4 separate regions of the Homo sapiens genome follow, and regions 1, 2 and 3 are each linked to region 4. Evidence: fine-mapped expression QTL. A gene starts in region 4. Each other region holds a variant in brackets. All regions are shown on one strand. Distances are from middle to middle. Region 1 overlaps LOC107986261 (a long non-coding RNA gene). Region 2 has its middle 58 kb from the start of PROM1. Region 3 overlaps TAPT1 (transmembrane anterior posterior transformation 1). Region 4 holds the start of PROM1 (prominin 1).

What was found. PIP is the estimated chance that this variant, and not a neighbour inherited with it, causes the effect.
Region 1: its variant is the best candidate, but not a certain one, in a credible set for the expression of PROM1 in skeletal muscle (GTEx, PIP 0.83).
Region 2: its variant is the best candidate, but not a certain one, in a credible set for the expression of PROM1 in thyroid (GTEx, PIP 0.82).
Region 3: its variant is the best candidate, but not a certain one, in a credible set for the expression of PROM1 in transverse colon (CEDAR, PIP 0.88).

Annotation. Positions count from the first base shown.
Region 1 is chr4:16,106,163-16,114,268 of GRCh38, forward strand. It overlaps LOC107986261 (a long non-coding RNA gene), which reads right to left. Exons shown (of 5, transcript XR_001741597.2): 5 at 7,714-8,106. Among named protein-coding and RNA genes, the nearest start is that of PROM1, 26 kb to the left of the region's middle. The variant A/G (reference allele first, on the strand shown) is at 4,592.
Region 2 is chr4:16,137,950-16,146,055 of GRCh38, forward strand. No RefSeq gene overlaps it. Among named protein-coding and RNA genes, the nearest start is that of PROM1, 58 kb to the left of the region's middle. The variant G/A (reference allele first, on the strand shown) is at 3,259.
Region 3 is chr4:16,157,664-16,165,769 of GRCh38, forward strand. It overlaps TAPT1 (transmembrane anterior posterior transformation 1), which reads right to left. Exons shown (of 14, transcript NM_153365.3): 14 at 2,842-5,874. The coding sequence ends at 5,645. Among named protein-coding and RNA genes, the nearest start is that of TAPT1, 65 kb to the right of the region's middle. The variant A/AT (reference allele first, on the strand shown) is at 5,041.
Region 4 is chr4:16,079,215-16,087,320 of GRCh38, forward strand. It overlaps PROM1 (prominin 1), which reads right to left and starts at 4,809. Exons shown (of 28, transcript NM_006017.3): 1 at 4,764-4,809. RefSeq lists an enhancer at 1-84.

The DNA.
Region 1 (8,106 bases), 27 kb after region 4:
GCTCAGCCATTTTCATCACATGAAGTCTTATGGAAGGAAAATGTCAAATACTCAAAGGCTTAATGAATAAAGGATGGCTTTTATTGGCCAGGCAGCAACAGGGTCTCTGGGGTAGACCAACTTGGGTTCAAATCTGATTCTGACACATCTAACTCCATATGTCATCTTGAACTTCTTATACTTAACCTTCTACGAGCCTCCATTTCCTCAACTGTAAAGTAGAACTAATAATGGTAGCACTGCTGGGTGGGTGTCATGAGTCTTACATGAGACAAGGCATGCATGGCACCTGCACAGCAGAGGGTTCCAGTAAGAGTTGGTGCTCTCCTCCTGACCATTCAACCTCTGATTGTATTTAGGGCAGCACAAGGATCCTTCCTTAGAAGGATCCTTGCTCCCTGCCATCCTACAGGTCTATGACTGGTTAGATAAACCAGATAATGTAATATCATAAAGATGCTAGAGGCACGGATCATAGCGCAGCTCTGACTCCACCCCAATCCCACCCCTGAGAGAGGCAGCTCTTTGGTAAAATTGTGCAGGGAAGTACAAAAGGGCCTCAGTCTCCCCACAGCTTGTCCTCACAATAAAACACAGTCCAAATGCATCCTAGATGGGGCCAAATACATTCCTAAAAGTGAAACCAATTTAGTATTTTCCTTCTGCCATTTAAAAAAAATACAAGTTTGTTCCTTCTCCAGAGTTCTCTATTTTAATTAATAACTTCAGTCTCCCAAGAGGAAAATTCAGCCTCATCTATGGTATTCGTCATGTGGATCCAACCATGCAACCCCTTTTCTTGCTGGGGACCCCCCATTTGTGTAGAGTAGCAGTGGGACACAGCTACTCACTTTTCACCACAAAAACCTAACAATCGTCGTTCCATGCACCTGTCACACACCCAAGCATGACCCTTTCAAGGCCTGGCTCGTTGGCCACTTCTGCCCGGGACTTTGTCCCTGGAGTGTGTGATGCAGGACATGAGGCCAATCAGACATCAGAGTAGCGGCAGGGGTGGTGGTGTGGGTGGTGCCAGGTGCCAGCAGTGGTGTCCTGATCAGGCTGTACCTGACCTGGAGTGCTGATTCCGAACTGCAGCCTCCTGACAGGGCCAGGAGCCATCCAATACCCTTTGGATATATTCCTCTTCTGAGTATGATTAGCCAGAGTTGGCTGCTGGTGATCCCTGATTGATTAACACACCACCTTCAACATTGCCCTCATCTTCCTTTTGTAATCCATCCCCTCCTCTACAGTCTCATGGTGGCAGTGCTAACTCAGCCACTCGTGTACTGTGTGGACTCATCATATTCCATGTACTGTGTAAAGTCCCTCAAAGTCGCAGCTCATTGCTCACTCACTGGGATTAAGGGGAGGCAAGTGATTTGCCATGCAAGTACAGGTTCAGATCCTGTCTGTATGTTAAATTCGAGGCATGTGTATCATGGAGCTTGAGGCATAAATATGGATTTTTAAAATATTGCATTAAGTATTATTTACTATAATTAATGAGCTATTTGGGAACGCCCTTAAATTTTGTGCTGGCCCTTGAGTGACTATGCAATACTGATCAAGACCATAGCTCATCCACACGCTTTCCTTCCTTCACTAAACAAACTCTTCAGAGCATTGCTTTGCATCCAACTGTACTAGGCTGTAAGGATGCAGAGGTAATTAACACCAAGTCAGGCCTTCAAGAATGTCATTTGTCTAGTGGGGGGGAACAAATCAATGCCACTTTGAATTCTACATGCACCAATAAAGGGAGAGTACAAGATAAGCATGCCCATAAGGCAGGAAGTCTCAGTTCAACCCCGTATGAAACCTTCCAGAAAATGTTTCCCAGGGCTATGATGCTCCAGCTAACTCATTAGAATGAAAAGTGTGTCCGATGAAGAACAAGGCTAAGAGGAGAGGTGCCCTGGGCAGAGGAGTTAGCACACACAGGCGTGTCCAGATTCAGTCAGTGGTATGGTGGGGCTGGATCGTGTGGGCTGGGACATAATGTTGGTAAAAAATGAATAATGATAGAGGAATCTAGAGCAGTAAGTTGGAGGGGCTTGGGATGTGGAGGCGCTCACATGCCATGCTGAGGAATTGGGACCATCTGAAGGCAATGGGGAGACATTGAGGATTGTAGAGGAAGAAATGATTGACATTAGCTGTAAGAAGATTACCCCAGAAGGAGGGTTGGGGAGGAGAAAGGTGTGGGGAGAGAGGAGCCTGACAGGAGTCACCCAGGTGGGTACTCAGGGCTGGTTCATGGGCTTGGCATTTTGGAATAATCCATTAGGTTTAACCTCTTCTTGTGCTGCTTCTTTCCCCCTAGTTGCTGGCAAGCAAAGTGCAACTATTATATGTAGCAACTGTCCACTGGCCTCAACACCCTGGGTCTACAAAATAAGGTCTCCTTTACACTTACATCCCAGCTAGAAAGACTCCATGCCCTGCCCTCCTCTTGCCTCAGCAGGAAATCAAGTGCCTCTTACAGCACCTATGCAGCATTTCTGGGGGTCCCCCACCACTCAGGGCCTGACATGTTCTTAGGCTCTAGCTCTGATGGTCATGGCCAACAAAGCCACCTGATGAGGCCCTTCCACTGCCCCTGCTGACCGAGCCCATCCTGAGACACCAACTTCCCTGCCACCGCTATCTCCAGATTCTTCCAGAGCCCTCAAAACTTGGAGCTCCAGGGACTGCTGCATAGATCTTGGGAGAATGGCCTTCTCCCCCAAGCGGGGCTATAATTCGGACTTCAAAATGGCTATGCACGTTCCTAGAAATTCCTAAGAGTCCCAGGAAGTGTTTCATTAGCTTCAAGATCTTACCCCTCAGATGAGAAGGATGCTAATATTCGCATCTCCCATGGGAGTGGCGGGGCAAAGCCTCTGCCCCGTCTCCCCCATTGTCTTCCAGGACCCATGCCCGAGTTTTCGTCTCCATCCAACTGAGAGCTAGACTTTCCCAACAGTGTTCAGAGCATGTTTGCTTCTTGGAGCCATGGTCTCAAATGCTTCCACCTCAGAAGACCTCTAGTGTTCATTTGCATAGCTGGAGGCTCACTGGGGTGGGCAAGATTTTCAGAAAAACAATGGGACAATCTGAATATATCCAAATGTCCACTTCTTCCAGAGACATGTCAGCTTTAAGTTGCTCTCCCCACTAGGTTTCCAAGAGCCAGGCCCAGCGCGGGTGAAGACTGTGTGTTTCCCCAATGCCCTAAATGTTGTCTGCCAGAGGGAAGCTTCCATGAAGCCTGAGACAGACATGGTAGGAAGCTCAGCCCAACGTGATGGCCCCGAAAGGTCCATCTCTTGGGTGTTTCATTTTGGGCCGTTCCCCTTTCCTCTGATCCACATCACTGAAATTTTAGATTCCCATGAAATGTAAATTCTGCAAGGGCAGGCGTCTTGATCTGTTTTGTTCACTAAAATATCCCAGGAGCCTAGAAGTGTGCCTGGCACAGAGTTGGAGCACAATAAATATGCATTGAATGGGTGAGTGCCTATTCTCAGTAAGCAGGTTGTGTAGTGAAAAGAATATGGGATAAGCATCTAAACCTGGATTCAAATCTGGCTCTGCTACATGTTAGTTGAGTAGTCACTTTAAACCCATCACTTTACCTCTCTGCACCTAAGTTTCCTCATCGGAAATGGGGACTATAGCTGTATTTTAGAAAGAAGTGAGGTATAGGCTGGGCTTGATGGCTCACGCCTGTAATCCTAGCACTTTGGGAGGCTGAAGAAGGCGGGTTGCTTGAGTTCAGGAGTTCAAAACCAGCCTGGGCAACATGCCAAAACCCTGACTCTACCAAAAATACAAAAATTAGCTGGGCATAGTGATGCACTCCTCAAGTCCCAGTTACTCAAAAGCCTGATGTGAGAGGATCACCTGAGCCCAGGAGGTCAAGGCTGCAGTGAGCCATGATTGTACCACTGCACTCCAGCCTGGGTGACAGAGCCAGACTCTGTCAAGGAAGGAAGGAAGGAAGGAGGAGGAAGGAGGAAGGAGGAAGAAGGAGGAAGGAGGAAGGAGGAGGAAGGAGGAAGGAGGAGGAAGGAGGAAGGAGGGGGAAGGAGGAAGGAGGGGGAAGGAGGAAGGAGGGGGAAGGAGGAAGGAGGAGGAAGGAGGAAGGAGGAGGAAGGAGGAGGAAGGAGGAAGGAGGGAGGGAGGGAGGGAGGAAGGAAGAAAGGAAGGGAAAGGAAAGGAGGGAAATAAAAGTGAGACATACATTAACACACAAAGAAAATGAAATGTGACTGTAGTGTGAAGTATATTGTAGGTGCTAACAGATATTTCTGCCCCTCTTTCCTCCTTCCCTTTCTTCTACAAATATTATTGAACACCTTCTATGTGTGTAGGCATCAAGCCAAGTGTTCAGGACACAGCAAGACCAAGATAGTGGAGGGAAAAGTTTACTGTCTAGTTTGGGAGATGGATAAAAAAATCTGGAAACAAATAAACCAAACAAATCATTTCAAAAAGTGCTCAGAACTATCTGCCCATGTCCAGATTTTAATCGAAGTGGAAATCTCTTTTGTTCCTGACCCATGGGCCAATGCTGGGTGCTAACTGGGGTCAGGGGCTGGAG[A/G]TTCTAGGCCTGACTCGGCCCTTGACCAGAGATACACAGACTTGGGGAACTACCTAATACTTCCAGGCCTCAGCTTCCTCATCCAAGGGCAGAATCTCTGAGATTCTTCTCATGGTCCAGTGGTCTGTGATTCATTTTTTTTCCCCAGGGTCAGCACTATATTGGAGTAAGTTTGTGATTTGTAGGGAGCTTAATATTTTAATTTATGAAAGGACCATTAAATTCCTTGCTAATAGACACTGTCATGCTGCTCAGCAGCTTCGTTAGCCAATCCATCCTGAGTCTTAAATTAAAGCCAGGAAACCCCAGGGTGTCACTCAGTGTTAATGTCTTGAAAGCATTAAGAGGTTTATAGGAGCTTATATTAAGCTTCCCAGCCACCTTCCTTCTTGAGTCAGCTTCCATTCTGCTCCAGCTTTCTAGATGCCACTCAGAGCAGCCCATGTTGGCAATGACTTTGATGGTGGTGTTTCAAAGACATTTTAAGTACAGTCATGTGTTGCTAAATGATGGGGATATGTTCTGAGAAATGCATTGAAGGCTATTTTGTTGTGCAAACATCACAGAGTGCACTTACTCAAACGTAGATGGTCTAGCTTACTACACACCTATGTATATGGTACAGGCTATTGTTCCTAGACTACGAACTTGGACCGCATGTCACCGTACTGAATACTGTAGGCCACTGTAACACATGGGTAAGTATTTGTGTATCTAAACATAGAAAAGGTACGGTAAAAATATGGTATTATAATCTTATGGGATGACCAAGGTGTGTATATGTGGTCCATTGTTGACTAAAATATTGTTATGTGGCACACGACTGTAACTGTGCACTGTAGAAGGCATTGCTCTGCAACAGCATGTCCTAGATGTTTTCGTGACATGACAAGTATGTTATACTCAGGGTCAGCTCTAGACAAAAATGTGGAGTATGCATAGGAGGAAGAACATGGACTTTGGGGCCAAACAGACGTAAGTTGAAGCCTATGTCCGCAGTATCTTGTGCGATCTTGGACATGTTTTTTCATCATTCAGAATTCCAATTTCATCATTGACAAAGTGGGAATAACAGCACCTATTTTACATGGTCATTGTAAGGATTTTATGGAAAGGACAGAGCTGGTGCTCAGTAGATTGGGGGCCTCTTAGAAGCTGCACCTCCATGTCACTCTCTGGAGTCTCTGCTCCCATCTGCTTTCCCCACTGTCCACCCTGGGTATGCAATCTCTGCCTCTTCCTCATTTTCCTGTGTCAGACATGAGCCTTTGAGGTATTCCTCGTTTTCCTATGTCAGACATGAGCCTTTGAGGTATTCAGAGATTTGGGGGAACTTTTCTCTCTCCTTAGCCCCAATCCTAGCACTGGAAATGACTTAGGCTCAAGCATCGCCCCATCCTACCAGCCACCTGCACATGAGAAAAAGGAGATTCCAGGAAGTTGTGTGCATGGAGTGTTTTATATCAGAGGAGTTAAAAGCGTGTGTTCTGGAGGTATATTGGCTGTGATTTACGGTCTATGTCCCCTTGATGAGTTATCTGACTTCTCTGTATTTCCGTGCCATCATCTGTATATTATGGCTAGCACCTAATACAGCATAACACTGTGAGGATCAAATGAGTTAATACACACAGAGCTTTGCCCAGCAACTAACATGTATTATTTCCAACAAGTATTTATTGAGTGTCTGCCCCATGATGGCTGGTGTCTTTTCTACTGTCACCGTGTCAGTCAGTGGGGAACAAGTGATTAAATCCCAGGTCTCTGACTCAAAACTGACCCTCTTCCCAGAGTATGCACATTTCCTCTTTCTTCCCTCCCCATCTTTCAAGCAGGAAAATGGGGAAGAAGGAAGGAAGGAAGGAAGGGAGGGAGGGAGGGAGGGAGGGAGGGGAGGGGAGGGTGGAGGGGAGGGTGGAGGAGAGGGGAGGAGGGAGGGGAGGAGGGAGGGGAGGGGAGGGAGGGAAGAAGGGAGGGGAGGGAGGGAAGAAGGGAGGGGAGGGAGGGAAGAAGGGAGGGGAGGGAGGGAGGGAGGGAGGAAAGGAACAGGTATAGGATTTAAACCTGCCCAGCATGCTCTCCCTCCTCCTCTGGGTTCAACTGAGCCTGAGCTCACTTCCATTGAGTGGAAGACAATGGATTCTATGGGGGTTTCTACATTTGATGTTCATGTCTACCTTTATCACATAGTGTGTGTAGACTCACACTCTCCCCTCAACCACAGATTCTTCATTCAGAATGGTCCAGTTCCAGTTACTGCACAGCTGATAGAGACAGTGAGGCTGGGAGGAAACAGGACAGATTTCACATCCAGGGCAGAACAAATGATTTCCTCCCTCTCATTCATTTGCCCGTTCTTTCATTTAAGAAATACTGACTGACTCTGTGTCATATACTGTGTAGTATTTCATCTAACCCTCATGAACCACACAATGATGGAGGCATCGTCCCATTTGCCAGATGAGAAAGGTGAGGTTCTAGAGGTAAGGAAATGGCAGAATGAGAATAAGTCTGTCTCCCTTGGTCTAGCACTGGATCATTATTGATCAAGCACTGATTATTATTATTATTATTTTAAGAAACAGGGTCCTGCACTGTCACCTAGGCCAGTGTGCAGTGGTATAATCATAGCTCACTGCAGCCTCAAGCCCTTGGGCTCAAGTGGTCTTCCCTCCTCAGCCTCTCAAGTAACTGGGACTACAGGAATGCACCACCACATCCAGCAAATTTTTTAAAATTTTGTAAAGATGGGGGGGTTTATTATGTTGCCCAAGCTGGTCTTGAACTCCTGACCTCAAGTGATCTTCCCACCTTGGCCTGCCAAAGTGCTGGGAGTACAGGCATGAGCCACTGCACCCAGCCCATTGATTATTTTTTAAGTCATCAAACATATTTTCACTTGACTGGTGGGAAATTGTCTAATGTATTCCATAAATTTACCCCAACAAGGCAGAGAATGAAAAAGTCTGAAAAGTGCCCTATTCCTAGATCATAGTGATAAGAAGGTGGGGTTAGTCGATCAGTTACCCCTATCTGAGGGTGCCAACTCCCTGCCACGCACTACTCTTGGGGCGGGTCATCACTCATGTGGTGTTCTTGGAGCACCTTTTGCTCCAGTGTAGGCACCACAGTTTTCTGTGCAGAAGCAACATTGCCCTGATGCACTCTTGTGTTTCAGAAGGAAAAATACCAGCCAGGGATGCAGAGGGCTGGGTCTGGTTCCACCTCTACCACCTACCAGATGTGTGACTTCAGATAAGCTGATTAACCTCTCTGAGCTTCTGCCTCTCCTTTCAGGAGTTCTGAGAGTGTCCTCATCTCTGCTTGTGCTCCTTTTGAGTGTTCCTTAATTTGCACTTGGTCAAAGTTTGTCAGGGCAGAGCTATTTACAGTTGTCCAGGAAGCGGAACTTTCCGTGAAAGTTCTGGAGACTTCCATTCATCCCACAAAATAATTCGCATAAATAAATATCAGGCTCAGATGCAAAGTTTCTTTTTATAATAGAGAGGAGACAT
Region 2 (8,106 bases), 59 kb after region 4:
AGGATCCAAAAGCAATATGCATTTAGTAGAAACAGTACTTCAAGTACGCATACAACCATTCTGTATTCACTTTCAGTACAGCACTCAATACATTACATAAGATATTTAGCACTGGATTACTAAATAAGCTTTGTGTTAGATGATTTGCCTAACTGTAGGCTAGTGTAAGTGTTCTGAGCATATTTAACATAGGCTAGGCTAAGCTATGATATTTGGTGGGTTAGGTGTATTAAATGCATTTTCAGTTTACAATATTTTTAACTTATGATGGGTTTATGGAGATGTAACTGTGGGCATCTGTATAATTTAATGTAGTTTCAGGTAATGATAACTACTCAGAAGAACAGTTACAAAGGGCAAAGCAAGACTGGGCATGGAGTGGGTTCTCTTTTAGATGAAATGGTCACAAAAGCTCTCTTGGAAGGGGTTTCGGATGGCTCAGCTCACTTGCACATGCGCCAGTTTCCACCTATCCAAGTTCAGGGACCTGGGAGACAACAGTATAGTACCGAGGAAAGAGCAGAAACTTGGTAGCTTGTCTTTCGTTGCGCTTGCATTGGAGGGGCACGACATTTCCTGCAGTCCTTGTGGCTGTAAGCTGAAAATGCATTTACTACACATAACCCACCAGATACCATAGCTTAGCCTCGCCTACCCACGCTCAGAACACTTACATTAGCCCACGGGGGGCAAATCATCTAAGCCTATTTGGTAATCAAGTGCTAAATATCTTATGTAATGTATTGAATGCTATAACTGAAAGTGAAAACAGAATGGTTGTATGGGTACTTGAAGTACTGTTTCTACTAAATGCATATGGCTTTTGCATCATCTTAAAGGTGAAAAATCCTAATATCTGCTAGTAGCATGCATGAAAGGAAATGGCAGCACTTTGGAACTGCAGTCATTGGAACCTGGACTTTCAAGACTGCCATTTACCAAGGGTTTTCTATGAACGAGGCACCTCATCCACCAACCAGGATGCTGAATGGAACTTCTCCATTGAGATTTCCTGAGTCCCCAGAAGTGAAGTCAATGGGTTCTCACACATTTTAAAAGGAGGCGTTAGACACATGACCACAGAAATGCCCAAATCTGCAAAAACCTGTGACCCTTGCTCACCGCTCACTTCCAACCTACACAAGAGATAAGAAATTCAGAGAAGATTGATCAGAGAAAGCTATCCCTTAAAGCAAATGCACAGATGTGGAGCTTGTGACAGTGTTTGTCCTCCTTTTTATTATTTTTAGAGGCAGAGTCTCGCTGTGTCACCCAGGCTGGAATGCAGTGGCACAATCATAGCTCACTGCAGCCTTGAGCTCCTGGGCCCGAGGGATCCTCGCAGCTCAGCCTCTTGAGGAGCTGGGGCTACAGACCCACACCATTGTGCCTAACTTGTTTCTCCTTCTTTTCTGAGAGGAAAGAGAAAAGCCAGGGCTCCTCATCCTAAATGAGGGGAAGGGGCAGGAGAATCTCTGGGGAGGGGAAGGGGTGTCCATGGGCCAGTCTGGTTTCTGACTACGTGCTGAATGTCTCCTAAGCTGCTAAACTGTGCACCCAGGGCCACTACAAGGCCAGAGCAGAGTGCAGTGACAATGCTGGGTGACACCTTGGCCTCCTGAACTTTGGAGGTCACACACTAGAGTCAGCTTTTTTCCTGAAGATGTCCAGGATGCATGAGGAGGATGGTCAGGCAGCCTGGGGAGCAGCCTGCACCCCCAGAGACTGGCTGGGCAGAGGGAACACCAAGGAAGGGGCCGGACTAGAGCCACCCTGGAAACAACCCTGCCCAAGCAGGCTGCCTGGCAGAACTCCAGGGCGGGCCCCTGGGGCGGGAGATGAAGAGATGAGAAGGAGCTGGGAGAGGTCAGAACAGAGGGTGCATCTATCATGCCAGCAGGCCCCAGGTGGGGGCAGGGGTGGAAGTGAGGCTAGTGGATATCTCTGAAGAACCCACAAAAGGTACCTCTTGGAAGAGAGAAAAGAAAGAGGGCTGTTATGGGTTGAACTGTGTCCCTCAAAAAGATGTGTTGAATGAATTCCTCACCCCTAGAACCTGTGAAGGTGACCTTATTTGGGAATGGGGTTGGGGCTGATGTAATCAGTTAGAATGAGGTTGTAGTGGACCAGGGGGGGCCCTTAATCCAATATGACTGTTGTACTTATCAGAAAAGGGAAATTTGGAAACAGACACAGAGAAGAGAGCACCATTTGAATAGATGCAAAGATTGGAGTCATGGTATCACTATCTAAGGATAGTGCTTCGGGGGCTGCCAGAAGCTGGAAAAGGCAAAATATGACCCTGCCCCAGGGGTTTCAGAGGGAGGCTGGTCCTGCCAACACCTTGATTTTGGACTTCTAGCTTTCAGAACTGTGAGAGAATAAATTTCTGTTGATGTAGGACACCCAGTTTGAGATATGCTGCTATGGCAACCCTAGCAAACTAATATAAGGGCCAACCTTTGGGCATCTGCCACATAGAAGACCCATGGCCAGATACTCCAAGAGTCAGGTGAGGCAGCCTTGAGTTCACATCTCCCCTCCGCCACCCACCCCTTCCCCCAGCTCCAGGTGCAACAGGGCATATGAGGGACACACCGGGTCCTATTCCTGGGGCTGTCCTTGCCTAAGCTGGGGAAAAGGCAACTGCTTTGAATGGGACGTGAGATGGAAAAAAAAAAAAAAAAAAGCGAAACAGAAGATCTGAGTGGCTTAAATTGGACTTCAATCTTTTTACTACTAGAACATGCTATAGGATCTACCTAGACTGTGAGAAGTTTCCCCAAAGAGTCCACAGGAAACATATAGGTAGGAATATCTGATGGGCTCTGGCCCAAAACTTTCCTCTAAGCCTCAAGGAGAGCCAAAGCACTATTCTGAAAATGTTGGAGGCAGAAGAAAGTTTTCTCAGATTCCCTGGCATCTCCTGGGCTTCTCCATAAATGGAAAGAAGGCTCAGTTCAGCTTCACTGAAGTCTTGGATTCTTGTCCCCCAGGGACTGAAACCAAACCTGGAGCCCAGGTCACTACAGGGAAATGATCCAGACCTCAAGGAATTTCAAAACACTTACTCAGGCAACAGCTTTACCTGGAAGCTGGCCAACAAAGGCCATATAATGGACAGAGCAACATTCTGTGGTTGGGGAAATGCTTTCAGAGAGGCAAGCCTTTGGGACTGTAGATTAGGATCCAAATACCAGTGTAAATAGAGTAGAGCTTCCTGGTAGAGGGCTTGGTTGCTCAAGGTGAACAGTGTGT[G/A]TCTTTGTCCATGGTCAGCTCCACAGTCCAGAGTAAGTTACTCTATCATCAGAGTTAATGGCAGGAAACAGAAAGTCCCCTAGTGGGTTTTAGGTATACAGAGAATTAATACAGTTAATTAGGTGCTTCCAGAAATCATCTGAAAGCTGTCAGGAAGTTGGGTGGCTCTAGACTGGGTCTCTAGGAGTGTTTAAAAGGCATCCCAAATTTGTTTTAAGCTGTTATGGTGAGACATGAAAGTGACTGTCATGAAGAAGTTTGCTACTCACAGGTCCCTAGAAGCAGGGCGTGCAGGGCCACATGGAGAAGCACCCATGTTAGTCCTTTACTGAGGTTTCCACAGGGAGGAACAGGTGAGGTAGTGTCAGCAGCTTTAGGATTGTCTAATTTGAATAATCTTAGCAGGCTCTTGGGCACAGGGGCTGCCCCTGGTTGTGTGTCCCTAATTGTCTTTCCCTAGGGCTGACCCCGGTTGTCCAGCCCTGGGGTGATTAGAGCAGGCAGATAGTGGCCTGGAGTATGAGAACAGATATAGGAGGTGGTTGGGGTATGGCTCTGGATTGGTTGGTTTGCATATGAAAGGCACATTGGCTCACACACCAGACATTTGCTATTCCTAGGAATTCGCTAGTCCAGTAAGGGGTGGTCCCTCCAGGGTCAGCAAAGCCCCAAGATGTCAAAGCATCAAAAATACAGAATAAAAACACAAACTGGGCAAGGAATTGCTTCTGCAACATTTGAGAAGGCAAGGAAATGGGGCTACAAGGAAGCTCATGAGTGCCAGAGGATTAAGATAGTGTCTGTAAACCACTAGTAGAGTTAAAGGCATTAAATCCTCAATTAATAGCGACTGCTACAATTCTTAGCATTGCTTTCAGTTCTGTAACTTGGGCTACACAGACAATGATCACATTATTAGGTTTGCACTTAAAAAGAAAAAAAAGTCCCCTGTCATTTGACTATCTCTGAGACATCTGGAGTTTGAGACTCTCCGGGAGCACAGTACTAATCACACGTACACTCCAGCAATACTGGATGCACTAAGTTAAACTGGTGACCTGGAGCATATTTGAGGTGCGTAGTTCTGAACCTTACCTTTTGATAAAGGTTTGGTCCTTGCTGGGGGCTGACATTGCCTATAAGAGGACCTAACAAAGCTCAGTGCTCTTTCCAGCATCTTCCTGTAATACCCTTAGAGGTCTTCTAATCGTGTAGTGCTTTCTGTTGCCCACTAGCCAAGGAGCAGAGTGAAGTGAGACCCAAACCAGAAAGTAAACCTGAAATGCAGGCAGAGAGGGCCAATCCCCACATGCACAGAGCAGAAGTGCAGAAAAGGGGGGCAGAGGACACAACTCTTGTGAGCACCCTGGACAGCTGTTTTGCATTTAGCCATCGGCAACGCCATGAGGCTGAGATGTGTCTCAGTTTTATAGAGGATGGCAAAGCTCAAGAGGTTATGCACTAGCAGAGGTCCCACAGCAGGGTTCACACCCAGGTCTACCTAACTCTGCAGGCCAGGAGGCTTCCAACCACACTACACAGCCTGGAGAAAGAACTGCACATGAAGAATGAGCTGTGGAGGAGGCTGCCATCGCCATGCCCATAGAGGGCAGCCAGGTGTGGTTGGGGAAACGGTGGAGTGAGGTCAGAGCCTCAGAGAACAGCAATAGAGGCAGGCTGCAAAGACTTCCCCCCATGTCCCTGTTCTCCCACAGATGCCCACCCAACTTCCCAAACTGGAACTGCATTTCTGTGCACTTTTGCTAATGGAAATCCCAGCAGAGGACTTTGTGACTTTTATGGTTTGTTTTAATAACACACCCCTCACGATTACTAAAGTAATACACATCATTGTAAAACAGAGAAATGGACCTTGTATGAAAACAAGCCACCACACCCACTAGGATGGCTGTCATAAAAAAGACAGATAATAGCAGGGTTGGTAAGGGTGGGAGATATTGGAACCCTCATAGTCTGCTGGCTTCTGGTACAGCTACTTTACAAAACAGATTGGCAGGTCCTTAGAAAGTTAGACAGAGTTACCATGTGACTCAGCAATTCCACTCCTGGGGATATGCCCAAGAGAAATGAAATTATAGGTCTACAGAACAGTGTGTACATGAATGTTCACAACAGCATCTAAAGGTGGAAGCAATCTAAATGTCTACTAATTAATGTGTAGGTAAAGAAAATATGGTGTATCTATACAATAAATGTTATTCAGCAATACAAAGGAATGAAGTGCTGATATGTGCTGTGACATGGATAAACCTTAAAAATGTTATGCTAAGTAAAAGCAGCCAGTCACAAAAGACCACCTGTTGTATGATTCCACTTTCATGAAATGTCCAGAGTTCATAAATCTATAGATAGACAGTAGGTTAGTGATTTCCTAAGGCTGGGGTGGGTGGGTGGCTACTAGTGAGTATAGGGTTTCTTTGGAGGGTTACAAAAGTGTTCTAACATTGATCATGGTGATGGTTGTACAACTCTGTGAATATACTAGAAATTATTGACTTGTACACTTTAAATGGGTGAATTTTATGATATATGAATTACATGTCAATAAAGATGCTATAAAAATTATAAAAACTTGCATGTGGACATTTTTAGCAGCTTTATTCATAATCGCCAAGATTTAAAAGCACCAAGATGTCCTTCAACAGATGAATGAGTAAATACACTGTGGGACATCCAGAATACGAAATATTATTCAATGCTTAAATGAGCTGCCAAGCCATGAAAAGATGTGAAGGAAGCTTAAATGCGTATTTCTATGTGAAAGGATCCAGTGTGAAAAGCTACACACTGTATAATTCCAAATGCTGTATATGACATTCTGAAAAAGGTAAAATTATAGAGACAGTAAAAAGTTCAGTTGTTGCTAGGGATTGTGGGGAAGGAAGGATGAAGAGGCAGAGCACAGAGGATATTTAGTGCAGTGAAACTATTCCATATGATACTATGATGGTGGATCCATGTCATTACTCATTTGTCAAAGCTCAAAGAATGTACAGCACCAAGAGTGAACCCTAACGAAAACTATGAACTTTGGATGATAATGATGCGTCAATGTAGAATTGTCATCAGTTCTAACAAATGCACCACCCTGGTGGGGGACGTTGATAGTGGGGGTGGCTGTGAGTGTGGTGGGTGGAGAACATATGGGAACTCAGTACATTACACTCAATTTTTATGTGAACCTAAAACTGGTTTAAAAAAATAAATGCATGCAAAAATACAGTTAGGTAGAAGGAATAAATCCTATGATTTTATAGTATAGTAGGGAAATTATAGCTAACGATAATTTATTGTACATTTCAATACAGCTGGAAGAATTGTAATGTTCCCAATACAAATAAAAGATAAATGTTTGAGGTGATGGATATACCAATTGCTCTGATTTGATCATTAAGCCTTTTACACATGTGTCAAAATATCACACGTGTTGCGGGAAGTCAGGGACCCCGAATGGAGGGACCGGCTGGAGCCGCAGCAGAGGAACATAAATTTTGAAGATTTCATGGGCATTTATCAGTTCCCAAATAATACTTTTATAATTTCTTATGCCTGTCTTTACTTTAATCTCTTAATCCTGTTATCTTCGTAAGCTGAGGACGTACATCACCTCAGGACCACTGTGATAATTGTGTTAACTCTACAAATTGATTGTAAAACATGTGTGTTTGAACAATATGAAATCAGTGCACCTTGAACAAAAACAGAATAACAGTGATTTTTAGGGAACAAGGGAAGACAACCATAAGGTCTGACTGCCAGCGGGGGCGGGCAAAAAGAGCCTTATTTTTCTTCTTGCAGAGAGCCTATAAACAGACATGCAAGTGGGAGAGATATCGCTGAATTCTTTTCCTAGCAAGGAATACTAATACTAATACCCTGGGAAAGGAATGTGTTCCTGGGGGGAGGTCTATAAACGGCCGCTCTGGGAGTGTCTGTCTTATGCGGTTGAGATAAGGACTGAGATACGCCCTGGTCTCCTGCAGTACCCTCAGGCTTACTAGGGTGGGGAAAAAACTCTGCCCTGGTAAATTCGTGGTCAGACCAGTTCTCTGCTCTCGAACCCTGTTTTCTGTTGTTTAAGATGTTTATCAAGACAATACGTGCGCCGCTGAACATAGACCCTTATCAGTGGTTCTACTTTTGCCCTTTGCCTTGTGATCTTTGTTGGACCCTTATTAGTAGTTCTGCTTTTTGCCCTTTGAAGCATGTGATCTACTCCCTGTTCTCACACCCCCTCACCTTTTGGAACCCTTAATAAAAAACTTGCTGATTTGAGGCTCAGGTGGGCATGACGGTCCTACTGATATGTGATGTCACCCCCAGTGGCCCAGCTGTAAAATTCCTCTCTTTGTACTCTTTCTCTTTATTGCTCAGCTGGCCGACACTTACGGAAAATAGAAAGAACCTACATTGAAATATTGGGGGGCAGGTTCCCCCAATAACATGTACCTACCAAATATGTACAACTATGATATAACAATAAAAAAACACAAAAGCCTAGTTTTTAAAAATCGCATAATGAAAAAAAAACACGTGGGAGTCTGACCACACACACAAATATGATAATCACTCAACAGTTCAACCAATGTTCTTGGCTCTTTGTAAAGACTTAAAAATATAGTTTCCTATTATAGTTTTTCGCCTGTTTCTCCTTTGCTAGGGTGAAAGGAAAATAAATCTTGGGGCCCCAAAATCACTAAGCTAAAGGGAAAAGTCAAACTGGGAACTGCTTAGGGCCAACCTGCCTCCCATTCCATTCAAAATCATCCCTCTGTTCACTGAGATAAATGCATATCTGATTGCTTCCTTTGGAAAGGTTTATCAGAA
Region 3 (8,106 bases), 78 kb after region 4:
GAGCAAGGGTCTTGACTGCAACATCACACGGCAGGCTAGCCCTCCAGAGTATCTTAGAGGGGTAAATATCCCAGAGCTCAGTACACCCTACATCCCTGAAGTCCTCGCACTCTGCTGTGAGTGGCTGCAGGCACTTCCCTCAAGGGGTTTCCTTATCTGGCTTCTCCCTTCTCCGTAAATAGCAGAAGGCAGAGAGCTTGAGAGCTCCAGTTTTCCAGTTCAGGAAGGCGGTTTAACTTTCTGCTGTGCTCCTTGCTCCTTGTGTGACCCTGAACAAGTTACTTAACCTTTCTAAGCCACAGTTTTCTACTTATAAAATGGGGTAAGTGTCTGCTTTAGAGAGACATAAAGGTTCAATGAGAAGAATGTAGAAAATGAGCTTAGCCCTGCTTTCACACGAACACAAAAGCGATTACACAATAATCCTTTACAAGGACACCACCCTGACTTTTCTAAAACATTGATCTGTTCATAGCACTTCAGAGTTTACCAAGTAGTTTTTTTTTTCATTTCTCATTTGATAATTACAACAACTTAAAATTCCACTTAAGCTCCTCCACCCTTTGTCTATAGGATTAACCGTCTAAGATTCTTAGCAAGGCATTAAGAGCGCTCTTGAGATCTAGCCCCTGCCTCCATCCTCCATCTCGTTTCCCCAGGGATGGGACGGAAGCTTCCCTCCTCATCTTCCCAGCAAGACAGCTGGCACTTAATGGGGAGTGAAGGAAACCTGCGCTGCAGCTTCCGCTGTGCTCTTTCCTCTTTTGTTCATTCGTGCCTTGCCCTTCCTCTCCCTTCTTATCCATCTAATTCCTACTTGTTTCAAGGCGGCCCAAGTGCACACCTTCTGCAATGGCCCCTATGTTTTCTTCATCCAATAAATGTTTATTGCCTGCCTGTGTGTGCCAGGAACGAGGTGCAAGGGCTACAGCAGTGAATGTGGTTGAATGTTTTGCTGCAGCCAGAGGCGTGGTTTATGGTGGTACTCATCACACAGGGCTGTAATTGCCGGGTCAGCCCCCCAGTCTTTAGTGCCTTGCTAAGAATCTTGGACTTTTCACTGTCAGATTACAGTTAAGCCCCATGGGCAGAAAGCACAGCTCCTTCATTTCTGTGCTCTGCTCAGTGAGTGCAATTAATATCTGTGAAAGTAAGTCCAACAAGCTTTTTATGCCTTTTCCTTGTTATACATTTCACTTATCTGGTTAAACCTGACATTATGGCGATTTCTAATCTTCCCAGTATTTACATTCTTATGTTGACATATTAAAAATGGAATGAGAATGTGCTTATTGAAAATAATTGCAGTTTCAAAATTAACCATCCACTTCGAAGATTATTCACACTGCAAGAGCTCATTCATTCTGTAGTCCCTGAGCTAATACCTCTAAAAAGAGGCCAAAGGGGCCTTCAAGACCTCCCTTGGTTTCCTTATAAGCCAAAAACAAAAAACAAACAAGAAAACCCAAGAAACAAAACATATAAATAAGCAAAACATATTGTATTGATACCTACCTTGTCATTAAATATCAAAAACCTCAAATACAACTTTACTACACTATGCATAACTGTGCCTTTTGCCAACTTGCTGATACATTTACTCTCTTAATAAAATTTAGAACAGCAATGCCTTGTTTGCTCAGCACTGCTAAGCAATAGTTCCTCCCTATAAGCAAACTTTTCAGATAACTCAAGGTCCCTGAGAACGCCATTTTTTTCTGAACAACTTCCCCTCAATTGTACGAACCTTAATTTGTATCAAACACAATCCTTAATAGTATGTAATGAACACAATCTAAATCATCCTAGATCTCACTTACTGCATACCACACATCACATTGACCTGTAACACAGTTTATTGGCAATCACAGGCATGGCATCACTGACGTCAGGTATATTTTTACTGCTCTCTTGATTAACTCCTCTTGCTTCTACTTCTCCTTGCTGTTAAGCTCTACTTACACTTTACTCTTTTACTATACACACTTTTCTGAGATAAAGGGCAAGAAATGTCTATTTGATAGAGTATATGGACAAATAGAACTTTGCCACTTATGGGCAAGTTTAATGTTCAGTTCAAGACAGCCAAGGGTGCTGAGAGTCTGACCTCTGAAAAAGTGGGGTGGAGTAATCTTTATCTTTTTCCATATAAATAATAAATAATGAGTATCCAGAGAGAATTTTCAGAAGAATGTGTTTTAGCAAGATAGGTCTAACTCCTTGCTCCTTTTATGTAAAGATCTCTAAATAGTCCCTCTCAGATTTCCTAATGTACTAATGTGGGCTAAACTTCATGAACAGAACACAGAACCTCCAGGTTCAGTGGCTTAGAAACAATGGCATTTCAAAAGTTTCTCTCTTATGTATAGTCAAGCGGAATTTTCCAAGCTGACCAGCAACTCTGCTCCACAGCGGCATTCAGGGACCCAGGTTCCTTCTCTCTCATGGCTCTGCCATGATGGGCACCTACTGGGACAAGGTCACTACCTTCTCTGGGTTCCACCTGTGGGAAGGGGACAGAGGAGGTGAGGGGGACTCACCCATGGTCTTAAGGGTCCTGGCCCAATAGCGGAATACACCCTTCAACTTACATCCCCTGGGAGAATGAGTCAGCTGGCTACAGGTAACAGCAAGAGGGGCTGAGAAATGCAGTCCCCAGCAAGCAGCACATGCCCAGCTACAACTCTACACAATGGAACAGGAGAATGGATTCTGCTGGACAACTAGCAGTCTTCAGGGAGAAAGTCTTTTCTTATTTCTATTTTATAGAAGCACTGTAAAATTGCTATACAATTATCTTATTTCAAGCTAATCCAATAGGAAAAAAATCAGACTTACACAAACGTTTTAAAGAACTATATTTTAGAGCTGAAATAAGCCTGAGAGATCATTTGGTCAGTGGACACTCTGTGACCAGCAGACATTATTTCATCGACTTGTTCCTATCAGTCTTCCACAGACGAACAGGGACTTATCTTGCTCATTGCTGATCCCACCACTTAGAACAGTTTCTGACACATAGGAAGTGATTAACAAATCTTTGTTGATAAAAAATAGTTGAAAACATGTAACAATGTAGAGATATTACATTATTTTGTAAATTTATCTCCTCCTCTGCTGAGTTACCAGGAGTGGCAGGATATATTTTGATGGCCTAATTATAGCAAGTTTCTTTCACTTTATGTAACATGAATATAAACTCTAAATACTGGCCAAAGTCCACAAGAAAATCTGGACAAGCGTATCAGTGACACTTGGTCTTTACACTTATTCTAAAGGAAAACCTAATAAGGGTCTGGCCTATCCTGTGCCTTCATTAGATTTTTTTAAAACCAAAGCACTGTCTTGAACTTGACTCCCAGATGTGAAAAATATTTTGTGTGACATTCAAAACACTTGTAAAATGCAAATACCTTCATTTGCTGAGAAATATTAAATGGTCTATAATCAAGGCCGAGCCTATTTTTTCCAAAGACAAAATTAAACATTTTGCCACCATTAAGACCAAAGCAATAATTCAAATTAAGATAGCTCTATCACTTGTGAATTACAAATAAATACTTATTATACAGTGGGAAATTCACTCTACCAAATACAATAGTAAATATTAAAATAAATTCAGTGACCTTTTTAAAAAAGATTACAAAACTGAATTTATTGAGATTCACACAAGATGCACTTATAAAATTAGTACTGAATGCCATTAAAACAGAAGAAATGAACATAATCCCGAACTCCCAACAGCATCTGCAAAGGAATGGAAATCTTCTGAAAATGACAGCGCAGTAACAGAATAATTCAAGCGGAACTGAAGATCTATCCAAACCATGTTCCTGCTCTGAAATCAGGGTTGTGTTTGGCAAAGCTTTCCCCAAACTATTCCATTCACGGTGGCATTGTTCCTTTTGTTGGTAAAGGGAGATGGAAAAAATAATTCTAAAATGGGGCTCCATTAAAACACACACAAAGCAATTAAAACCTTTTTCATTTTTAACTTAAAATACTTCCTGGTTTCACAAAGGCATGTCCATACAATTTCCTCAACATTAATCTTCAGATTTCTTTAGTTAATGCAAAACATTAAAATTCACTTACTTTTTTGTATTTCAAATGAACAAGTCAGAACATTAAAGCTTGCTTTATATTTCATCCAAGAAACAGACAAATCACCTAAAAATTGCTTTCTGCCTATGTATGTACGCCTGAAACATTTGCATGAGAGCTAAACTTCAAAATCAAAACATCAAAGGAAATAACAGTTAACAGTACCATCTTCTGGACAGTTCTGACACCAGAAGTTGTAGAAGTTTTACAGAAATGCAAACACGGTTGTCAAGATAAAATGGGGTGGGAAATAACTTCTATGATATAGACCACAAACTAGTAATTAAGCGGAAACACAATCTTCATCTCAAATAAAACCAAAAAGCACCTTTTGGTTGCTGTTCCCAACAGCCATACACAGATGCCTCCCCACACCAACAGCCACCCATACGCCTCAAACACCCCATTTACTTTCACACAAAATCCTCTCCAGACCCAGGCCTGCCCCATCCCCAGCACAGGCCCACCCTGATAGTCACATCCCCACAGACACCCTCCCACAGAACACACACCCTGCCCCAGCACAGGCACACTCGCTGTCGACCCAAACACAAAGACTAATGCATTTGGTAAGCCCAAGCAAGATGATGCTGTCTAACACACTTGGAGCATTTACTTTACAGTTAAAGTTGACAGTTTTGAATTTTGTACATTGACAATTTTTCAGCCTGTTCAACATCGAATCCTTTTAGCTGTAATAATTTATGAAGTAATTAGTTTTAAAGCAAAATCAGTTAAGTATACCTTAAAGTTAACACTGCTCTGCTTCCTTGGTGTAAAAAGTGCCCTTTTGTAAGGAAATTTGTTTTATCCACCAATTAAATGACATACAGCTCACATTTTGCTTTAAAGAGTAAACTGAAAAATTATGAAGGATTTTTCCCAGTAATGCATAGCCTTCATTAATTATTTTTTTAATAAATAAACTAGTTTAGC[A/AT]TTTTTTTTTAACCCTACAAAATGCTACTATTCATCATGTCTTATTTAAGGTAGCCTTTTATTCTGATTAATTAAGATACATCTTTAAGGGTTATTCTGGTGGTAAGAACATTTATCTTGACTTATGTTTAATTTTTTTAATGCTTTGGCAGATGAAGTAACGTTTGAAAACTGTTTGTGAAAATAGTATGAGACTGGAAAGATTACGTCGTGGTAAAAGTTTCACAGTTTTCCAGGTATTTCCTTATACTGAAGAGGCCTTGAGGCAAATTCAACATTCTGGAAGCCCAGACTGACAAAGCAAAACAGATTTTGATGTTGCCTTTGTTGGGTCCTGGAAATGATGCTGCTGCTTGGCCAGGCAGGAGGAAGTTTTATAATCCATCAAGCTTCCCAGACAGTCAAGGCCGGAGGTCGCTCCTGTCCTGTGGTCTGACCCTCAGCCAGGCCATATTACTGGAAGAAAGATACTAAGATTTGCTTGCCAATAATAATTTAAGTTTTTAAATAAATATTTAAGTGCCATGTTTAGCATCTATTTGTCCTGGCAACACAGCACTTGTTGCCCCAGGACCCAGCTTCTTCAGCGCATGAAGCCACAGATTCAGTCAATTCGGTTTCCACAAATTGTGAACCTGTCTATCTCTAACAAATCTTTCTTTGAGGATCTGTGTTTTAATTCAGAATTGTCCTGCGTTATGTCCTTCTCGTCACCATCTGGAGTTGTCAAAAACTGATCAGAATTGCTTGTCACAAGTAATGGTATGATATTTTCCTTTTGATGAATAGGTTGTTTGGTGATGGAGGCAGACAGGTTTTCTTCTGTGGAAAGGCCTGTGATAAAATAGATCCATTAAATTAGAGAAAGACTTTTCTCCAATTATTAATAAATACAAACTTACCAATACAGTGGTGCTGAAAAAAGTGCCCATTATCCATGCTTTCCGATAAAGCAAATGATAACCAAATAGCATGTTGTATAAGCAGCCATCATTTATAATAAAACTTAGAGGCTAATCATCTGTTTGTTCAACTTTATGGAAGGGTACATTACATTGCTCGTATCACACAAACAATGCCATCACCCAACTGCAGAAAGATCACAACTCCTACATTACGGCTCCTCTCTATATAATCAAGACCTAACATGACTGTTGGCAGTCCTGAAACATTAACACTTGCTCCAATACAGAACATCAGGGAGTGGGCCAAGAAGACTTTACTACATTCCACCTGTCATCTGTAGTCACTTCAGCTACAGATGGTTTAGCATCATCATCTCTGGGAAGTCCAAACCAGAGGTTAAAAACAAACAAACAAATAAACAAAACCCCCAATGTTCATTTTAGGCCACAGAGATCCTGGAGCCTGGCTTTGGGGACAGCTGGGCTGGGGCCTGGAGAGACTCATCTGAATCATACATTCAATCCATGTAAGAACAGCTTCTTTGAGGCAAAAAAGACACACCATCAGCTGTACACATTTAAAATGTATAATCTGATGAGTTCTGACATGTGCATACACCTGGTCACACTACTGCCATGATGGAGGTAATGACACATCCAGCTCTCTTGTAGTAATCCCTCTCTCCTGCCCTCACCCCCAGAACCGCTGTCTTTTGTCTCTTTTACAACGTGATGAATCTGATGCAGCTTTGAGAGACAGCCCCCTCCCTCTCTTTAGCTTGACTTCAACACCCTCCTGCATGTTCTCCAGTCTGTGTTCTCCTGACCTCCAAGACATTCTGAGCAAACACTCAGGTCGTCATCCTGAATGTACTTCTCATAACATGACCCCTGAGTCAATGGCCCTGCCCTGCAGTACGTGCTTAAAGCTTTTATCCCCATTAGACTGGATCCTCCTTGAAAGCAAGAGTGACGCTTACTAACTTTTTGTTTTTATATTTTTTGTAGAGATGGGACTCACTAGGTTGCCCAGGCTGGTCTCGAACTCCTGGGCTCAAGCGCTGCTTCTGCCTTAGCCTCCCAAAGTGCTGGGATTATTAAAGGCATGTGCCACTATGCCTAGCCTAACTTCTTAACTAATATGCGTAACAAGAGAACACGTACAGGCCCCACTATGAATTACCTAGTTGGTTGAAAAAAATGCAATCCTTATTACTAATAGTGTTCTTATAATGAAAAAAATAATTTCCCAGTGATTATACACATTGTTATTTTACTTTATTTTCGCTTCCGGTTAAGTACAGATGATGAGCACAGACCCACTTTCAGGTAGGACTCCAGTCCAGCCCAACTCTCCTCTCCTCCCTCTTTCTGAAGCACACTCCACACTTGCCATATTGAGCTGCTAGTTCTCCAGACGCTTTTCCAGGTCTCCATGATCTAACTCATGCTGGCCCTTCTGGAGTGCCCTTTCCACCAGTCTGCCCTGGGCCAGTTTCATCCTTCAAGCTTTTAGTTTAGAAGAACCCCCCTCTCCTGTCCCTCCAAACCCTCTGCTCACCTATTTGGACCCCTGTAGTTACATGAGGCCTTGAAGGACATCCTTTATTTTTCTCTCTTCAGCATCTCCTCTATGACCTTGCACACAGTTATTCCACACATTTAAAAACACATCATTTAGGCCAGGCATGGTGGCTCATGCCTGTAATCCCAGCACTTTGGGAGGCCGAGGCAGGCGGATCACGAGGTCAGGAGATCGAGACCATCCTGGCTAACATGGTGAAACCCCGTCTCTACTAAAAATACAAAAAATTAGCTGGGCGTGGTGGTGGGCGCCTGTAGTCCCAGCTACTCGAGAGGCCGAGGCAGGAGAATGCCGTGAACCTGGGAGGCGAAGCTTGCAGTGAGCCGAGATCACGCCACTGCACTCCAGCCTGGGCGACGGAGCAAAACTCCGTCTCAAAAAAAAAAAAAAAAATACATCATTTAAACTAAAAGTTATATGAACAAATACCTCTGTGAACAGGGAACTGCCACCTAACAACAAAAATTAAGTCAACGTCCCAGTTCTTCCTCCAAATCTTCCAACCCAGAAACCCTGGAATCATCCTGAACTCACCTATTCTTCTCACACTGCATAACTTCCTCACCAGCAAATACT
Region 4 (8,106 bases):
AGAGAAACTGCCAAGGGAAGAACTATGAACAAACAGGCTCTCCAACTCCCTCAGTGACAAAGCAGGGGAAGGGAAATTCCCAGTGAAGTGAAACATAACTGCTCACCGCAGCAAAGATGGGAGACAATGACTTGAGATAGACAGCAACTGCAGTTGCACTTCCAGATTTCTTTACATCTTGCTCCAAAATGTAGGTCCCTCTGAAGTTTTAAAGTACATTTTAAGAAAGTATTAATATCTCACTAACTATGAAATACTAGAAACTGATTAAAGTCAAGTCAAAGAGGAAGAGTTTTTTATCTCGGGTTTAATAGGTTGTGCCAAAAACAGAAGCTCTGAGTATTTACCAGCTAAACCCCACTAGGTCCGAGAGCCACTGAGAGTAGCATCTGTCTCGGGATAAAATGGGGTGTTTAGTTGAAATGCAGACTATTAATGGACCTAATTTCTGGGATGAAACCCATTAATCTGCATTTTTAACAAGCTTTCCTGGGGACTGATCCTTCAAACAAAGTTTGAGAACAGTTCTGTTCCTGGAGTACTCTGATCCTGGAGTACCCGCCTAGTCAATTCATGTCACTTTCCAAGGACACTTCAGGCTTCCCAAACACATTGGAAAATAACACATGTAAGGTGAAAGCTCCCCAAATGCCCTTTTCATATTGCTTTGAATTGATCTACCCCAGCTGCTGTGCAGGTCCCTGGCTTATTTCTGTATCCCCAGAGCCTGGAACACAGTTGGTACTCAATGAAGAATTGCTACCAGCCTGGGCAACATAGAGAGGCCCTGTCTCTACAAAAAAAAAAAAAAAAAAAAAAAAAATTTAAATTAGCAAACGTAGTGGTGCACAACTGTAGTCCCAGCTACTCGGAAGTCTGAAGCAGGAGGATTACTTGAGTCCAGGAAGCTGAGCCTGTAGTGAGCCATAATCATACCACTGCACTCCAGCCTGGGCGACCTTACATGATTTTGAGCCTGGAGTCCAGAGAACTGCATTTCAATACTGGTTTAAAAGCAAATATGGCCCGGGCGTGGTGGCTCAAGCCTGTAATCCCAGCATTTTGGGAGGCCGAGGCGGGCGGATCACGAGGTCAGGAGATCGAGACCATCCTGGCTAACATGGTGAAACCCTGTCTCTACTAAAAATACAAAAAAAATTAGCCAGGTGTGGTGGTGCACACCTGTAGTCCCAGCTACTCGGGAGGCTGAGGCAGGAGAATCACTTGAACCCGGGAGGCGGAGGTTGCAGTGACCTGAGATCATGCCACTGCACTCCAGCCTGGGTGACAGAGACTCCATCTCAAAAAAAAAAATTAAAAATGAAAAAGCAAATATGGTGATCAATCACCTTCATTTCTTCTTTTCTTCTTTTGATGGAACTTCTCAGAATCTTTCTTTTTAAAGAAGAGCTTTGTAGTGGATTTTTGTCATCTGGAGTGCTTTTGGCGGGGGCATGGGGGATACCCAACATCTGAGACCACGTTTGTGAGCTGGGTGGGAGGCAGCCCTGCCTTGCATTGTGAGGTCAGCTGAGGCGCCCAAACTGTGTCCTGGTGGAGCTGAGCCATGCTGGGCCAATCAGAAGCTTTCTTCTGGGCCTGGGCCTGCGCACTCTGAAGCAGGACAGTATCTAATTCATTCCAGCAATGATGGCAGCAATGCCAGTAGCCACATCCAGGGTCCTGTTCTGGCAGCCGCAGCCACCCACCCATCAGGGGTCCTGTGGCATGTCCTAGATTCCTAAGCCTGGCTAGCCAGCCTTGCTGCCACTTACCTAAGCCACCCAGGGACCATCCTTTCAAGAAGTCCTTTTATATATATACATATACATATATATATGTATATGTATATATATTTTTTTATTATACTTTAAGTTCTAGGGTACATGTGCACAATGTGCATGTTTGTTACATGTGTATACATGTGCCATGTCGGTGTGCTGCACCTATTAACTCGTCATTTACATTAGGTATATGTCCTAATGCTATCCCTCCCCACTCCCGCCACCTGACAACAGGCCCCGGTGTGTGATGTTCCCCTTCCTGTGTCCAAGTGTTTTCATTGTTCAATTCCCAACAAACGGTGCTGGGAAACCTGGCTAGCCATATGTAGAAAGCTGAAACTGGATCCCTTCCTTACACCTTATACAAAAATTAATTCAAGATGGATTAAAAACTTAAATGTTAGACCTAAAACCATAAAAACCCTAGAAGAAAACCTAGGCAATACCATTCAGGACATAGGCATGGGCAAGGACTTCATGTCTAAAACACCAAAAGCAATGGCAACAAAAGCCAAAATTGACAAATGGGATCTAATTAAACTAAAGAGCTTCTGCAGAGCAAAAGAAACTACCATCAGAGTGAACAGGCAACTTACAGAATCCAAGAAGTCCTTTATCTGATAAAAATTACCCCCGACTCAGCTTCCACTGTTTTAACAAAGTATCTTGACCCTTAACAAATCTCAGAAATAGCTCTTTGCTCCCTGAAAAACCTATTTCCTTTATATTTTAAACAGTACCAACTTGGTTTAAAGTTTTCAGCTTGTCCTCTGATGCATTTGTTCACCTCATTGTACTAAAACACAAAGAAACTGTCTCGTATAAAAATCAGAAGGAAGTTTAGAAATCAGAAAGAAGTTTAGAAAAGTTTAGAAATCAGAAGGAAGTTTAGAAAAAAATTATGGAACACATGAAAAAAAAAACAAGAATAAACTAAAGGGCACTGCTGAATAGACAGACAACAGCAACAGTAAGGGGGCTCTGGTCCCCCTTACTAACTCTGCCAAGATGACAGTTGTTTGAATTCTCCAACCCTTCTTCTGCTCCTCTGTCAAAGGAGGATTTCGCATAGGGTTCGCAGGCTAGCGATCTAATAGGTAAAGCACCTGGCACGCAGCTGGAAGGCTATCTGGGGTCTGTCTGCTTCTGCTAGCATCAATACTCTGAGCTCAACTCCACCGGGGCTCCTAGGATAACCGGGACAGAAAGGACGGTGAGAAAAGAAAAATGAGTAACATCACACAAGTTGAATCATATGAGGTTGACGATATTCACATCTTCCATCCAAAAAACCGACAATTTCTTATGATTCAACCCAACATATCGCAGCGGTTGTTCGTGTCGCATGAGTCTCGGGGGGCACTCAAGAACTACGATCGTGCACTTGCTTTCTTAACAAAGAACAGCTGCCGCCCTCAGGAACTCCAGCAAACCTTTCTCCAGAAAGGTCAGTCGCCTTAGCGGGCTCCAGGAGCAACCTGTTGCAGAATGAAGCCTGGGGCGCCGGCTTCCCCGCCCTTTACCTCCAAACCACCTCCAGGCCAAGCCCCCTCCAGGCCTAGCTCCCTTCTGGGCGGAAGCCTCTCGCGAGCTGCGGGACACAAAAGAATGAGCGGCGGGGCGGGCGCGGGAAGCCAAGAGACTCCAGGAATTCGCAGCCGCGCAGGGGAGGGGGTTGCCGGAGTAACTTGGCTGCTCTGAGCGCGTCGGCGCCAGTTCCCCGCCGCGGCCCCTGTTGGGCACCGATCGGGGGCGATCTTGCCAGAGAGAAGGGGTTCTGGAGCTAGTTCCTCCCTCCGATCCGACTCCCTGCCCCTCCAGACACGGGCTTTCGGGGAAACTGATCCCGAGCCTCTGACTTTCTACAGCCGTGAAGCTCCTGGTCTGTCCACGCTCCTCTTTGTTGTCCGGTCGGCGTGTTCTGGCAGGGTGCGCCTTGAGCACCCCAGTTCTCCATCTAGCGATAGCCGCGGGTCCCCGCGCATGCAAGCAGAAGGGCCGTGGAGCGAGAGGCTGGGAAGGTGCTTCAAGCCAGGGGTGCATGCTTTCTCCCACGGACGCGGGGAGATGGCCTCGCTTTGTACCCCCATATCCCTACTCCCGCTGTGGTCGGCTGCACAGTGTTGGCCCATTTCCGCACTCAGCCAGGGAAGCTCAGCGCCTCACGTCCCCGGGGCCATCCCTAGAGTTTCCTTTACCGCAGACTCGTTCCCAAGACCCTGGCGAGTCTCACCTCGGTCACCGTTCTCCCCGAGAGCGAGTCCGAAGTCTCTGGGGCCCCGGTCCAGTTCGCACACTCACCTCCGACTCCCGCTCCGGAACCACGGCCGCCGGCTACCCCCACCCCCGCCCCCATCCCCAGTGGATGGAAAGAAGACCCAAGCGGGGCGTCGCGGGCCACCACTCAGACTAAAAAGTTTGGGTTGGACGGGCACCGGCACCACCACGCTCTCCCCGCAGTTCCTCTGGCCCCCAGCCGCTGTCCGGGCCCGCACCACCTGCTGAGGGGCCAGGGAGGCGGCGCAGATGGCTAGGGTAAGGGGGGCGCAGAGCGAACCCGTCCACTCCTCACTGTACACCCCCAGTACAGTGGAAGGAGTGCGCTCAGCCCCGCGCCTGGTCAGCAGATGCCTCTCTCGCTCCGGGATGAGGACCCAGCTACTCACCGTGCACCCGGCTCCCGCTCCTGCTCCCGCCCTAGTCACCGCTGCCGCCGCCCTTCCCTTAGCTCGCCAGACCCTGGCTCGTGAATTATTTATGACCCGGCTTCTGGGACCACCGCGACGGCTTTCGGAGAGCCCGCCTCCCACTGCCGGCCGCGGAGGGGCTCAGGCGGCGCTGCGGCCGGACCCTCGGACGTGGCGGGAGGCAGGAGAAAGGCCCGGGTGCCCGGGGGGACCCGTTGCGGCTTCCTCTGTCCCGGACGGGGACCTAGGTATGGGGCCGCCGTAATGGAAAGGATTCCTTAAACATACTCACCGCGGCGGGAGAGCTGAGAGCATGGCCAGGTGCCGCGTGGGGATCTGCCTCAGTCACTTAAAGATCGCGAAACCCGAGCCCTGGACGCACTCTGATTGGACCGGCTGAGCTGCTTCGCCACGTAGCCCTGGGGCGCCCACCAGCACCTGGACAGCATCCATTTCCTGTAGAGGTGCCTGCTCAACCCCCTGCACTCCCTTCTTGCAACGCTTGCGCCTCTTTTCCCCCCGCAGAGTCCCTTACTTAGAATGCAGCTACCCTCCTAAAAACTCTCCTGTCTCATCCCGGCCGCATTAGACCCTTCTGTTGCCTAATCCCAATGCAATTTAAAACAAAACAAAACAAAACAAAACAAAACAAAAAACAAAAAAACAATCATTTGGATCCTTAGTGTGCAGCAGTACCAATGCTAGTGGCTGAAGCGGTTGAAAAACAGCATAAAGCCATATTCGCTCCCATGTGTACACACAGGCATCTGCTATAACGTGAAGCCACTGCAACTTCTTTTCTCACTGCCTATTGGTCTTCCCGCTCTGTGAGTTACAACTCAACCTCGGAGTCTTCACCTTGCTACTTAGCTGAGTGGTGGAAACCTGTCAGAAGTAATCACTCGGTGTCTAAGTGTCCTCACCAATTTGCACTTCACTCTTATTCACCACTTCTTATCTTGAATTGAGAATACTGTACTCTCCGGCAGGCAAAAAAAAGACTTAGGGAAGAAATGCACCTTCAGGATGGTGTCTAGCATACAGCAGGTGTTTAATACATGTTTGTGATATGGATAGACAGATGAAAGGATGGATGCACAAGCTACAAATGAATGATAGACAGGAACATTAAGTCAGTACCTTTTTCTTTTTACCCCAGAATCTAACATAAAACAGGTACTGGAAAATAAGCATTTTTTGTTTTTAATAGTTAGATTGATCTTGAGTGTGTATATTTCTAGACAAGAAATGTTAGTTCAGAAAACTTCCAAAAAGTACAGTAGGACATGGCAAGGTTAGATGGTTTGGCTCTGTGTCCCCATCCAAATCTCATATTGAATTATAATTCACTGGGAGAGGGACCTAGTGGGAGGTGATTGGATTATGAGGGCGGATTTCTCCCTTGCTGTTCTCATGATAGTGAGTGAGTTCTCAGGATATCTGATGATTTAAAAGTGTGTGGCACTTCCCCTTTGCTCGCTCTGTCTCTCCTTCTGCCATGTGAAGATGTGCTTGCTTTCCCTTCTTCCACCATAATTGTAAGTTTCCTGAAGCCTCTCTGGCCATGCCTACGGTACAGCCTCTGAAACCCAGTCTCAGGTAGTTCTTTATAGCAATGTGAGATCAAACTAATATGGGTGGAAAACAAATCTCTTCTAATCAGGGCAGATTTCCCCTCTGCAGCCCCTGCAGGTCAGAAGTTTCTGGTTGAACATCTGCTGGGGTCCCATAAACCTTCTCCTAGATAGCACTTTTAGGCTGGAGCTAGCAAAAGAGGTGATTTCTCAAAGGAGTGGGTCCTGATCTCCGTCAAAGTTTGGTCCCGCCTCTTTTAATCGCTGTGACTTTGGCTGCTTAATATTTCTCTGAGCCTCAGTTTCCTGGTCTGCAAAATGAAGACAATTATAACTCACAGGGCTCATTTTCATTCCTAATAATATCAACAACAATAGTATCAGTAGAAAGGGGTGAAGCAAGATGGTCAAATAGAAGGTTTGACCACCCACCCCCCACCCCGGCTAGGAACACAATTTAACTGCTATCTACACACACAAAAAGCACCTTTATAAGAACCAAAAATCAGGTGAGTAACCACAATACCTGGTTTTAATTTCATATTACTGAAAGAGGCACTGAAGAAGCCAGGAAAGACAGTTTTGATTTGCCAATGCCGCCAGTCCTCCATCCCCCAGCAGCAGCAGCCTTGTGGCTTGGGAAAGGGAGAGTGCAGTGATTGGGAGACTTTGAATTGAACTCAGTACTGCTCTGTCATAGCAGAAAGCAAAACTAGGCTGAACTCAGCCAATTTCCCTCAGAGGAAATAGCCCATACCAGTGGTGAAAACTTGAGTTTCAGTAAAGTGCTCTGGGGCCCCAAATAACCTTAAAGGCAGCCTAGGCCACAAGGACAGCAACTCCTAAGCAAGCCCAAATGCTGAGCTCAGAGCCAGTAGACTTGGAGGGCATGCGACTTACTGAGACACCAGACAGGGGAGCTAAGGGAGTGCTTGTGACACCCCTACCCCAACCCCAGGTAGTGCTGTTAGTGGCTCTTCATCACTGCATGCCCTTTTCTAGCACTCATGCCTCTTTTACCCCAGCAGAGCTCTCTACTTGGAATGCAGCTACCCTCCTAAAAATGCTCCTCTCTCAAAAACTCTCAGCCACATTAGACCCTTCTGTTGCCTAATCCCAATGCAGTTAAAAAAACAAAACAAAAATAATCATTTGGATCCTTAGTGTCTGCATCAGTCCCAATGCTAGTGGCTGGAGTGATTAAAAACAGCACGAAGAGACCCATTCCTTCTGCTTGAAGAGAAGAGGGGGAAGAGTAAAGAGGACTTTGTTATCTTGAATATCAGTTTAGCCACAGTAGGACAGGGCATCAGTCTGAGTCATCAGACCCCCATCCCAGGTCCTAACTTGTGGATAACATTTCTAGACACATCCTGGGCCAGAAGGGAAACTGCTGCCTTGAAGGGAAAGAAACAGTCTGGGCAGGACCCATCACCTGTTGGCTAAAGAGCCCTTGGGTTCTCAATAGCCAGAAGCAATACTCAGGTAGTACACTGTGGTTCTTGGGTGTGACTCTGAGATCTGCTGGTTTCAGGTGAGACCCAGTATATTCCCAACTGTGGTGGCTAATGTGAGAGACTCCTTCTGCTTGACAAAAGCAGAAGGAAAAGTAAAGAGGATGTTTTCCTTCCCCTTAGGTACCAGCTCAGCCACAGGGAGGTAGAGTACTAAGCAGGCTCTTGGGGTGGTCTTCAATGCCCAGACACCAATGAATATCCAAAAGCTTCCAGACCACCCAGGAAAACATGACCTCACCAAACAAACTAAATAAGTCCCCAGGGAACAACCCTGGAGAAATAGAGATATGTGATGTTTCAGACAGAGAATTCAAAATCAATATCTTGAAGAAACTCAGAGAAAATTAAGATAACACAGAAAAAGAATTCAGAATTCTATCAGATAAATTTAATAGAGATATTGAAATAATTTTAAAGAATCAAGCAGAAATTCTCAAGTTTAAAAATGCAACTGACATACTGAAGAATGCATCAGAGTCTTTCAATAGCAGAATTGATTAAGGAGAAGAAATAGTGCACTTTTAAAGACAGGCTATTAGAAAAT